Linked DNA regions of Homo sapiens: regions 2, 3 and 4 are each linked to region 1. The links come from fine-mapping of genetic effects on gene expression. A gene starts in region 1. Each other region holds a variant in brackets. All regions are shown on one strand. Distances are from middle to middle.

What was found.
Region 2: its variant is fine-mapped to the expression of LINC00958 in whole blood (INTERVAL, PIP above 0.99).
Region 3: its variant is fine-mapped to the expression of LINC00958 in thyroid (GTEx, PIP above 0.99).
Region 4: its variant is fine-mapped to the expression of LINC00958 in prefrontal cortex (ROSMAP, PIP 0.95).

The regions. Positions count from the first base shown.
Region 1 is chr11:12,988,453-12,991,140 of GRCh38, forward strand. LINC00958 (long intergenic non-protein coding RNA 958) reads right to left here and starts at 1,096. Exons shown (of 2, transcript NR_038904.1): 1 at 1,004-1,096.
Region 2 is chr11:13,011,784-13,014,471 of GRCh38, forward strand. RASSF10 (Ras association domain family member 10) reads left to right here. Exons shown (of 1, transcript NM_001080521.3): 1 at 1-336. Among named protein-coding and RNA genes, the nearest start is that of RASSF10, 3.8 kb to the left of the region's middle. The variant C/G (reference allele first, on the strand shown) is at 1,460.
Region 3 is chr11:13,051,380-13,054,067 of GRCh38, forward strand. No RefSeq gene overlaps it. Among named protein-coding and RNA genes, the nearest start is that of RASSF10, 43 kb to the left of the region's middle. The variant G/A (reference allele first, on the strand shown) is at 1,560.
Region 4 is chr11:13,166,412-13,169,099 of GRCh38, forward strand. No RefSeq gene overlaps it. Among named protein-coding and RNA genes, the nearest start is that of BMAL1, 110 kb to the right of the region's middle. The variant C/CT (reference allele first, on the strand shown) is at 1,568.

The DNA of each region.
Region 1 (2,688 bases):
GCACTGCATCTGGCCTAAAATAAACAAACAAACAAACAAACAGTGATTGATTTAGTAAACATTATCTTTTTCTCTGGAAAACTGAGTTACATGGATTTCACAAGGTTACTGACTTTCAATGTATGGCTAAAATTGGTGGTAGATTAATTTATGGACATGCTAGTAACAAAATAGAATTTAATAATCTGTTTCATCCTCTAAGTATTTCTGACATTTTGTTGTTGTTGCTCATTAGTCCCTGGCTACAAATAACCACAAACTCCCTAGTTAAGATGATGTCAGGACTCTCAGACTAGGGAAAAAAGCCACATTCTGGTTGTAAATGAAAATTTAACGGAGAATAAGATATTTGAAAGAGAAAATCATTGTTTTGAGAAAGGAACAAAGAAGCCAGACAAGGTATAAACTTTACCAAATGTTCAAAAAATTCATTTAATATCGGGCTTTATAATTCATGAAGTTTCTTTTCTTTTGGCTGCCAACTTATCTAATTACAATTCTAGATTGACAGCAAAAATATTTAATATTCTCTGAGGAAATACCCAACTCAGGTGAGACAAGGACAGAGCAATGAAATGGAAGAAAACTGTGAGAAACCAGGGAGACTGTATTAGTCCGTTTTCACACTGCTATAAAGGACTACCTGAGGGCCAGGCATGTTGGCTCACGCCTGTAATCTCAGTACTTTGGGAGGCCGAGGCGGGTGGACCAGCTGAGATCAGGAGTTGGAGACGAGCCTGGCCAACCTGGTGAAATCCCATCTCTACTAAAAATACAAAAATTAGCTGGGCATAGTGTCGGGCGCCTGTAATCCCAGCTACTCGGGAGGCTGAGGCAGGAGAATCACTTGAACTCGGGAGGCGGCGGTTGCACTGAGCCGGGATCACGCCATTGCACTCCAGCCTGGGAAACAGATGAGACTCCGTCTCCAAAAAAAAAAAAAAAAAAAAAGAACTACCCGAGACGGAGTAGTTTATAAAGAAAGGAGGTTTAATTAACTCACCGTTCCGCATGGCTGGGGAGGCCTCAGGAAACTGCAGAGGGTGAGAGGGAAGCAAGCAGTTTCTTCACAATGCAGCAGGAGAGAGAGAGAGAGTGAGGTAGGAAGTGCCACACTTTTAAGCCGTCAGATCTCGTGAGAACTCACTCATCATCACGAGAACAGCATGGGGCAAACCGCACCACGATTGAGTCACCTCCCACCAGGTCCCTCCCTAACATGTGGGGATTATAATTCAAGATAACATTTGGGTAGGGACGCAGAGCCAAACCATATCAGAGACAATCCACGAGGGCCATGAGGTCGGCTCAGCCCTGATGTACTCTGGAAATCCTGGAATCAATGTGCCCATAGAGGGATGTGTGACAGGGAGGAGGGATCCTAGAGGGTCATGATATGACCTGGAGGCAATGAGATCAAATTCCTGGTCCTGCTAAGCCCCCAAATCGTAAGAGTTTACATGCTTTCAGGTATTTCTGGACTGTGCTTTTTAACGTCTCAAAACCTTTTTACATACATCACCTCATTTGAGCCTGATACAGACTAGTGAGCTAGGTGAGGGCTGGTTCTTCTCTATCTAGGTGAGGAAAGTGACAATCGGGAAGAGAAAGGACAAAAACCACTGCATGTTAATGGAAATAAATGACAAGGAGAAACAAAACAAAGGCAAGGACTCCATGGTGATGAAAGAAAGGCACATTGCCCAGGAAGGGAAGTGGAGGCCATGGCCCCACTTCTGCTCCTGACCCCAACCAGGAGACCACCAAGTTGAACCCAAGGGTGTGGCTGAAGATGTGCCTGGTCTTCTAAGATGTTTGCTGTCCAACTGCTGGTGTTGAACCTCCACTCCTCCTAGTTCCTTAATCATGTAGATAAGTCTATTTACATCCTCCACTAATACCAACTTTTACAGTGGAACGGGGTAAAGCCCTAAAAAGTATTTGTTACTGTAATGTACCATATAGTGGTAATTATTATTATAAGAAAGTAACTTGTAAACTGCCAAGTGCTATACAAATGTCCATTATCATTATTATGATGATGATTAGATAATGATCATGTTGGTTTTTCTCCAACCCAAGGAGTGCTCATTCAGTCCCATCTTTTCTTCTTCAATTTCAGTAGCTTCCCTATCCAAAGCCAAACAAATTTTAGTGTTCTTAATACCCTCAGTATGGTAGCTTGTTAATGTCTCTTAAAAGCTCAAATAATTTATGCTTACTTTTTAAACTTTCTTCTTATAACACAGCTTCCCCTCCCTTCCCTCCCTGTCCCCCAAAGCCAGAAACTCTAGTGGGCTAGAGAAATCTCCAACTGGCAGAGCTTTTAGAAATAGAGTTAGGCGACGGGGTGTGGTGGCTCACGCCTGTAATCCCAGCACTGTGGGGGGCCAAACCGGGGGGGGGCGGGTGTGGATCACTTGAGGTCAGGAGTTCAAGACTAGCCTGGCCAACATCGTGAAACCCTGTCTCTACTAAAAATATAAAAATTAGCCGGGTGTGGTGGTGTGTACCTGTAGTTCCAGCTACTCAGGAGGCTGAGGCAGGAGAATCGCTTGAACCCGGGAAGCGGCGGTTGCAGTGAGCCGAGATTGCACCGCTGCACTCCAGCCTAGGCGACAGAATGAGACTTCGTCTCAAAAAAAAAAAAAAAAATAGAAACAGAGTTAGCCTCACAGAGTCACAGAA
Region 2 (2,688 bases), 23 kb after region 1:
TTCCCAAAATAACCTTTTATTATTACAAAAGCCAAACATAATCATTTGAGATATAAAATCCTGGCAAACATAATCGTGGTTAAAATTTAATCTGGGCCCTTTGGGATCTGTCCCTTCAAAGGCAGGTGAGTTGCCCTTTAATTCGTATTGCCACTTCATTGACTCAATCACTGTTATTTCAGAAAAAAATAAAAGGAAGTAGCAGAATTCAAGTTACGCAAAACAAAACTTGCTGTCTAACAAGCACTCTTTGAAAGCAAAGATGTTTTAGTGTTCAGCTTTTAAATTGAGCTATGTGATTAAAACCAACCATGACCTTAACGGATTTTACCCAAACTCGTCTAACTTCAGTATGTTTTGTCAGAGATTAATCAGTTACTTGTTCAAACTTAAATTGAGATAGTGTAAATATCAGGGTTTCCTAGATAAGGACAGAAAAGAAAAAAATAAAACAATCTCATAGTACTCCTTGGGTGAACAATGTGATTAACGATGGCACGTAGTCATGGAAAAAAAGATAAAAAGTGAGTTAAGAACTTGAATTACTCTTGTCTGGCACACGCCTATGCACATGCCAGGAGATGCAAGTGCAACACCATCTCAGTAGCTGGCGACAGAGCTGGTGGGGACTCCATGTAATTGTTCCAGTTGTTTCAATTAAAACTTATCAGTTGTAGCTAGTTGTTGGCCCCGCGGAAGGAGCCTGCTGGCCGATTTCCCTCTGCAGCTCAGTACTTCTGAGGAATGTGGGATCTAATCTGTCCTGAGAAGGTTATTAACAATGGGGCATGTGTGTGGTACCAGCATGGTGCAGAAGCCTCTTATCAACCTACTCTTGAGGGGCTGGCTCCAGTTTCAACACTACATGTGAAGATAACTTAAGAGGTCTTGCTTTATACAGAAGTTCCTTCCCTTGCAGAGATTCTCTATCTGCTTGTTGCCAATGGGAGCCTGCCCTTATGACCTCCTCAAACCACTGTTTGTGCTGTCTCCTTTTTAGAGACAGCACCCCCCACCCGCCCCGCACTACCACCACCACTGCCCTGGTATTACAACATGTGTGCCTGTTTGCAGATTTTCAAGTAAAAATGGGAATTTAAAGGCCATTTTCTTAATTGATGTTTTCAAAAGACATTAGCTGGCATAACTATGGTTTTTTAGTTTCATCTGATGCAGGAAATGTCTATGCATTTGGTCTTGAACATGATAAAAATGAGGAAGGGACTGAAAAAAACCCACCATCCCCAGACAATCATTTGATCCCATAAACACGAAACCTAATGATAGCTTTCATTTTGAGGCAGAGGTAAAATCCTCATTAGAGTGTGACAAAATGCTACTTGTCTGAATGGTTTATGCTGACAATGGGCTGACCTGGTGGTTTTAAAATTATTGTGCTGTTTTTCCCCCTCAGGGTGGTAGGGGAGTGATTCTTGGACGTTTATTAACTCAAAAAGAA[C/G]GCAGAAGTTGGCAGAACAGAACTGCCTGGAAGAAAGGGGCTGTTTTCCTTTTCACTATTATTATTTTAAACTTTGATGGGCTGCTGACGTCAGCAAATATGCTTGACGCCTGTAAAGCAAATAAGCCACATCACAAGCAGAAAGCCTGTGGGATTTTCTGGTGCCCTATTTCTAGAACCTTCCCTGTTCTGACCATTTGAAGGTGCTTATTTAGTCAACCGTTCAGGCAGCTGCGAGGCTTTATTGATAACAAATGGCAGCCTATTTGGCCCATTTTTTTTCTTTTATCCAAATCAATTATATTCCTAAAAGGCACTCTCTGTGAGTAGAAGAAAGGAGTGTGTAGAACAGGCTGACGTGGGGGAGCGGGGAGGAAGGAGACAATAGTTCTTTTTACTAAGAGCTTTCGCAAGCCTGAGAAAGGTGAAATAAAGGTATAAAAAGCACCAAAACAGTGCCTGTGCATAGGAAGTGCTTAATAAATGCTAAATACTTCAAGTTTTAATTCACATTTATGGTCACCATGGCATTAAGAATGAGAATAAATGCATGACAGGGAATGTACCAATGTCAGGATTTCAGCGCCCCTGGGAAAATTAACTCAGCTCCTATTCTCCAGCTCTAATGGAAATCCTGGGCAGAAACCAGCAAACTTAAGAAGGGTATGAAATGTAGGTCCCTTACCAGTCAGCCCCACCCTTTTTTTTTTTTTTTGGTAACTGAGATAATTTATTGTATTTTTGATCTGAGTTATCCTAGTCTCAGCCATCTCCCAAACCAAAAGATTCCATATGGCATCTTTATGTTTGTTTATTTCCTTATAAAGTGTGTTTATTTTTTGCTGATTAGAAAAGTTGTGTACACGATAGTCCTTACGATGAACCTGAAAATAACATAAAAAGGCAAGAAAAGTCACTCTAAATCTCTGTACCAAAAACCTGTCACTACCAAGATTGGTATATTTACTTCCAAACCTTTTGAATTGTGCAGATTTCATATTTGCTTCTGTATTTAAAAATATATAATTTTGATAAGATTGTATATACATGTTTATACTCAGGTTTGACAGACTCCCTGTAAACAGATCTACCCATCTGGTGGATATACCATAGTTTACAGAACTGCGCATGTTATCAGTTTGTTTCCCATACTTTTTTTTACTGTTATAAAATAACACCGTAATAAGTTTCTCTGTGCATGTATCTGTTTACCTAATTAGACTCCCACC
Region 3 (2,688 bases), 63 kb after region 1:
CTGACAGCCGTCTCTGGGCTGGGGATTGTTTTGGCTGAAGAAAACTGTCTCATCCAGGGTCACACCTTCCAGAGGCAGCCTACATCCAGTGAGTCATTCAACTTGGAGGTATAAAGGTCCAGCCCACTCTCTCCAATTTGGGACATGTCTGTGGAGTTTCTGAGGCCTTTGCTGGGACTGCATTGCTTTGTTGGACTCTCCCTCTGACCAGTCTGCTTTCTTCTTCTCTCTTCCACAGGTATTAATCCCTAGAGAACTCTCTTACAAATTTCCTAAACGCTAATGTCAGAATTTGCCTTCCAAAGGATCCAGCCTAAGATGTGTCCAGTTCAGGAAAGTGTCCTGAAACATTACATTCAGCTGAGTTGTGGGCACTGAGAGAGAGAAACGCAAACAGAGAGTACTTATGATTCCAGGGATCAACTTAAGTGAAGACCCAGACGACTTAAAGACTCAACACCAAAACTTTGAAAACCTTGCCTGTCTCATCTGGGGCCTGACACAGTCTTTGTTGAATGAATTAATAATGATAGGTGAGCTTTTTCTATTTATTTCAGATTGCAGGTTGCATTTGTTTATTTGTTTACAACAAAAGTGCATGAACAAATCATACCAAGCAGGAATAATAATAGCTATCATTTATTGAGCTCTTACTTTGTGCCAAGCACTTTGTGTATACTGTCTTATTTATTTCTCATAATGATCCTGTGAGGCAGATACTATTGTTATTCTAATTTTATAGATAAGAAAACTGAGGTTTAACTAAGTTAAGATGCTTGCTACAGTCAAAGAGCCAGTGAAACTCTTGGCCACACATACTAGACTCCCTGGGGACAAAGAACCTCAAAGGAGCACCGCTGAGAGCTGCTGGAGCCCAGAGGGGGTTGCGCCCTCTCTGCCAGATGTCCATGGATGCCTGGCCCTTTGGATGGTTCTGCCTCATGCAGCTTGAGGCTAGGAGAGCTGAGACCAGGCTACGGTTTGGCTTCTGCCTCTTTATTTCGGGGAATGGCATGAAGATCAAAGTGCTCAGCTGCTGGTGAGAGAGCCATAGTTCCAAAGCTGTAGATAGTTGCCTCTGCTCAAATGAAGGGAAACTTGATAGACGAGTTTTTCCTGCCTTTGGCAAAGAAGGTGCCAGCACAAGGGTAATATTTAAAGATCACACAGGGATTTTTTTTTTTCCAGGAGATTGTGTATTGAAAAAGGGTGTGGGGTTGGCGAGGTGTAAGGGGAGGCCTTTAACAAAAAAAGAAGCTTGTACATAGGTTCCTTTGCTGGTGGGATTTTGTGCACAGAAGATGCAACATGCCTCTTGTTTTTTTCTGCTCATCAACTCAATCATCTGTTCCACCCATGTCTATTGGGTGCCTACTACATGTCAGGCACAGTTCAAGACACTGGGATGTAGCATTCTAGATTGTAGCTTTCATGGAGCTCATATGCTACTGCGGGGAGGATAGGCCTGCCTGTGCAGAGAGCTGGGTTGCAATCTTGTAGTATTTTCTCATGACAATATCGAGTGCTCAGAATTGCTAGCACTAAGCACATGGGTAAGC[G/A]CACAAGTGTAACAATGGGTTTCATCTACGTAAGCAGAGGGAATTACAGAACTAAGCAGGAAAGTCCATGGAGTGCACAAATGGGTGATTGTAAATCCCCTTGATGCATCTGGCAGGACACTTAACAGTGGGGTGCAGGAACGATTTAGAGTAAAACCTTATGAATAACGGGGATGGGGGAGCCAAGGCAGCCAGCCTAGAAGTTGTCCTATTCCCATCAGCAGTTAAAGAGGGCTATAAAGGCCATCTCTTTCAGCATGATGAAGAGCAGAGGTTTTCTAACCTTACTAGCTAGGTTTACTAGCAGCAGGCACTGGACCAAGTGGATTTTCACTGGAGGAGAAATACAGCCTACACATTACATTTGTTGTGCAATTAGAAACAAGAACAGTAAAGGTCAGAGTTAGGAAGATGAAGACTTTGCAGGAGGAAGGACCGAGAGAGCTCACTGACTATTACTGCTTCAGACCTGATACAATGACAGGATGTGCCCTGTGAAGGATCCTGGTGGCACGTGACCCAGCACAGCATGCAGGAGATCCATGGATGAATCACAAGGATAACTGAAGAAGAGATTGCAGAACAGATTCAGGGAAGAGAATGTCAAAGGCCTTTTGTCTTGTCCTAGTGGAAAGGGGCAGGTAGTGAACCCCAGGCCCATGTGGTTGTTTTCATTGTGTACTATTTTTTCCCTACAATAAGTATATTTATGCTTCACAGTTTGAAACATGTGTATGGGTCATCATATATTGTGGACTCTTTATTTTTAAACAAGTCTTTTTGCTGACATGCCTATAAGTATTGACCAGGAGGGGACGTGAGTGGGCATATCCCCTCTCCATGGAAGTTGCCTGGTGCCCACCATGGGCAGACTAGCTGAGCTACCACTTAGAGGGCGGGTCTGACCAAGAGTTAGGAATCCACCATCGTGGTTCGCTCTTTGAATTTCCTCCTGTGTTTTCTACAGTTGTGAAAGCTGCAGTCAGCCCTATCTGTGGGAACTTTAAGAAAGTGACCCATCCGACCCTGCAGCAACTTTCTGCCTGGTTTTTCTAAACTGCTAAGATTTTTGACAAGTGATTTCATGGTCCTTTTATTCCTGTGTGTCAGATGCACAGTATTTACTTTG
Region 4 (2,688 bases), 180 kb after region 1:
TACCTCTCCCATGATGAGCGCTTCTGGTGTTACTGGCTCCAGGCCTGGATGGTCACTCCTGCTCAGCCTCTGCATCTCTTAACTCTGTCTTCATCTCTGCTTATTGCCTGGCATGTTCTCTCCATGTGGATGCCCTCGTCAGCTAACACACTTCTGGTTTAGCAGTCTCCATGCTGAAAGAATGCCTCTTTTCCAATACTTCCTAGGCAAGCAGCAACTACAGACGCTTGCTACTGTGTCCAGACTCATGGGAACTCTTTGAAGATAAGAAGATGGTCTGAGGAGAGCCAGGATCAAGCGAGGGTGGAATATAGGAGGTGGGAGTCACTGGATCGGAGATGGCAAATGTGTGACAAACATGCTGCCAGCACTCTCCTCACCCACAGCAAACATGGCTAATCAATCCTGGCCCTCTTAATCCTTTCAATACAGACTCTACCAGTGAGTAGTTGAAACCTATTTACTGTTTCTACATTAAACTCTATATTCAGCCAGTAGAGTTCTTAGCACATGATAGGTACTTAGTAAATACTGAATTAACAAAACTGAACCAGAGCTTCATTTAATCCAGGAGTAAGCTTAGTAACAGGGTGGGTCAAAGATTAGGAACCTGAAGGTCAAATCTTTTCACAGAGTTAGGAACAGGTGCAGTGCCAAAAGCCAGGAAATCAAAATCAAAGCCCCTAGAATGTCAAGTCACTTGGGCCACTGCAGTAATTCCTAATAGGTCCCCCCACCTCTGGTCTTGGCCCTTCCCACCCTCAACAATGCCTTCTCCACATCAAAACCACCCCTCACTAGCTTCTTTAAAACCTTTGCTGATTTCTCTTTGCTTTGGGAATAAAAACAAGACACTTCCTACGGCTTCCAAGGCTGCCAGCCCAAGCCAATGTCTCTTCCTGCAGCCTCACTTCCACACATCCCCCACTGAGCTAAGGAGCTTTACACAGCTACCTCATCTAATCGCACCACCCAACCATGAACCAGGCTTGATAGTCTAATTTTATCAGTGACAAATTCTCACCTGGTATTCAGGGAGATTATATGAATTAGCCAAAGTCATGAAGCTGCCAAACATAATTTGAATCCATTTCTGTCTGGTTCTGAAGACTGCATTCAGGAATAGATGAGACAATTCCCATTAATTCAGCTTTATTTATCAGGGACTTTCTTTGCTTTTTACTAAAATAAAATCAAAACAAAAGAGAACTGGCTATTGGTCCATTGGAACCCATACACACATATGCAAAGGGAGGGGGACAGAGACACAGAGACAGGGAAACAGACAGAGACAGAGAAAGAGAAACAGTGACAGAGACACAGAGAGATAGAGAAACACAGAAAGAGATACAGAGAAACAGAGAGAGATAGTGTAAGAGACACAGAGACAGAGACAGAGAGACACACACACACAGAGATCTCGTTGCTTGGTTCACTTTCAGCCCATTGTGTCTGCATGATGTAAACAGAGATTTCTAGTTAGTGTGTGTGACTAGCGCCAACTTCCCAAAGAGGAGAATGCCTAAAAGTACTGTTTTCCTTTATGTTCCATTTTTTCTTTTTCTTC[C/CT]TTTTTTTTTTTCATAGTTTTTCATACCTTCAAGTCTGAAGAGAAGGAATTCCAGGAAAGTGTCCCCCTCAATGAGTGAGCCATTTCTGAACGGGGCCAGAATAGCCACAACTAGGATTTTCCTCTCTCTCACCCCTCTTTCTACCCCCTACCTCCCATAGATTTGATTATGAGTGAAACTTTGCTCCTACACACAGGGAGGTCCTCTTCCATCGGGCTGGGCCCTCACTCAGAATGCAAATGCCCCAGGGCTGAAAAGCACCTTTCACCAGAAATGTCCTAGCTGGAGTCTTTTTAGCCTTGACTGACAAGAGCATCCACACATTACAGGGCAGTGCCTTCTCCCTGGCACTGCCATTTGGCTTAGCTCCAAAAACTAAAGAAATCAAGCCTCAAAGGACGCACAGTGTTGCCTTGCTGGACGGAAGCCCACACTGACCACATGAAAAGTACCATTTCTCCTGTCCAGCAGCCCACTGTGGCACTGCAGGCTGGGACCTGACAGCAAGAGGCTGCATGTCAGAAGGAAGCAATGCAAAAAGGGTGTGGAGCTTGCAGCCTTAGCATTCACCACCATGCTGGCGGACTCCAAAGATAAACAGCGCACCCTTTCCCAGAAGGGGTTCAGGGTTGTTGCAACATCCCCCAGCTATTTATCTCAGGTAAAAGGTGCAGCAGGTCTTCCAGTTTCCTTCTTCCAGAGTAGGTATGCTTGCTTTTATAAACTTGGTATGACTAACATGTAAACTTTACACATCTGAGCAGGGCTATCCCTTTAGGTAACTTTTCCTATGCTCCTTGGAGGAGCTGAGTTTTCATCTGTGCTAGGAAAGGTCTGATTGAAAGGGAAGAGCTTCAGTGGCCACTGCAGAAGAAAGTCCACCTTTGACAGTCTTTTTTAAAGATCAGTCAAAGCAAGAAGTGGGCAGATCAGAGAAACAGTGCAGAGACACCAGGGCCCCGGATCTCAGTGCTAAGAAATTTTACACGAGGTTTTGGGATCAACCATGGCTCACCATGCCCTGTGGTTGACAAAACACAAGCTGTAGGCATCTTAGGGTTACCAGAGCAAGAGATCTACAAAGGAGGCCAGTGATTGTCATGGGCTTGAGTCTTAAGAA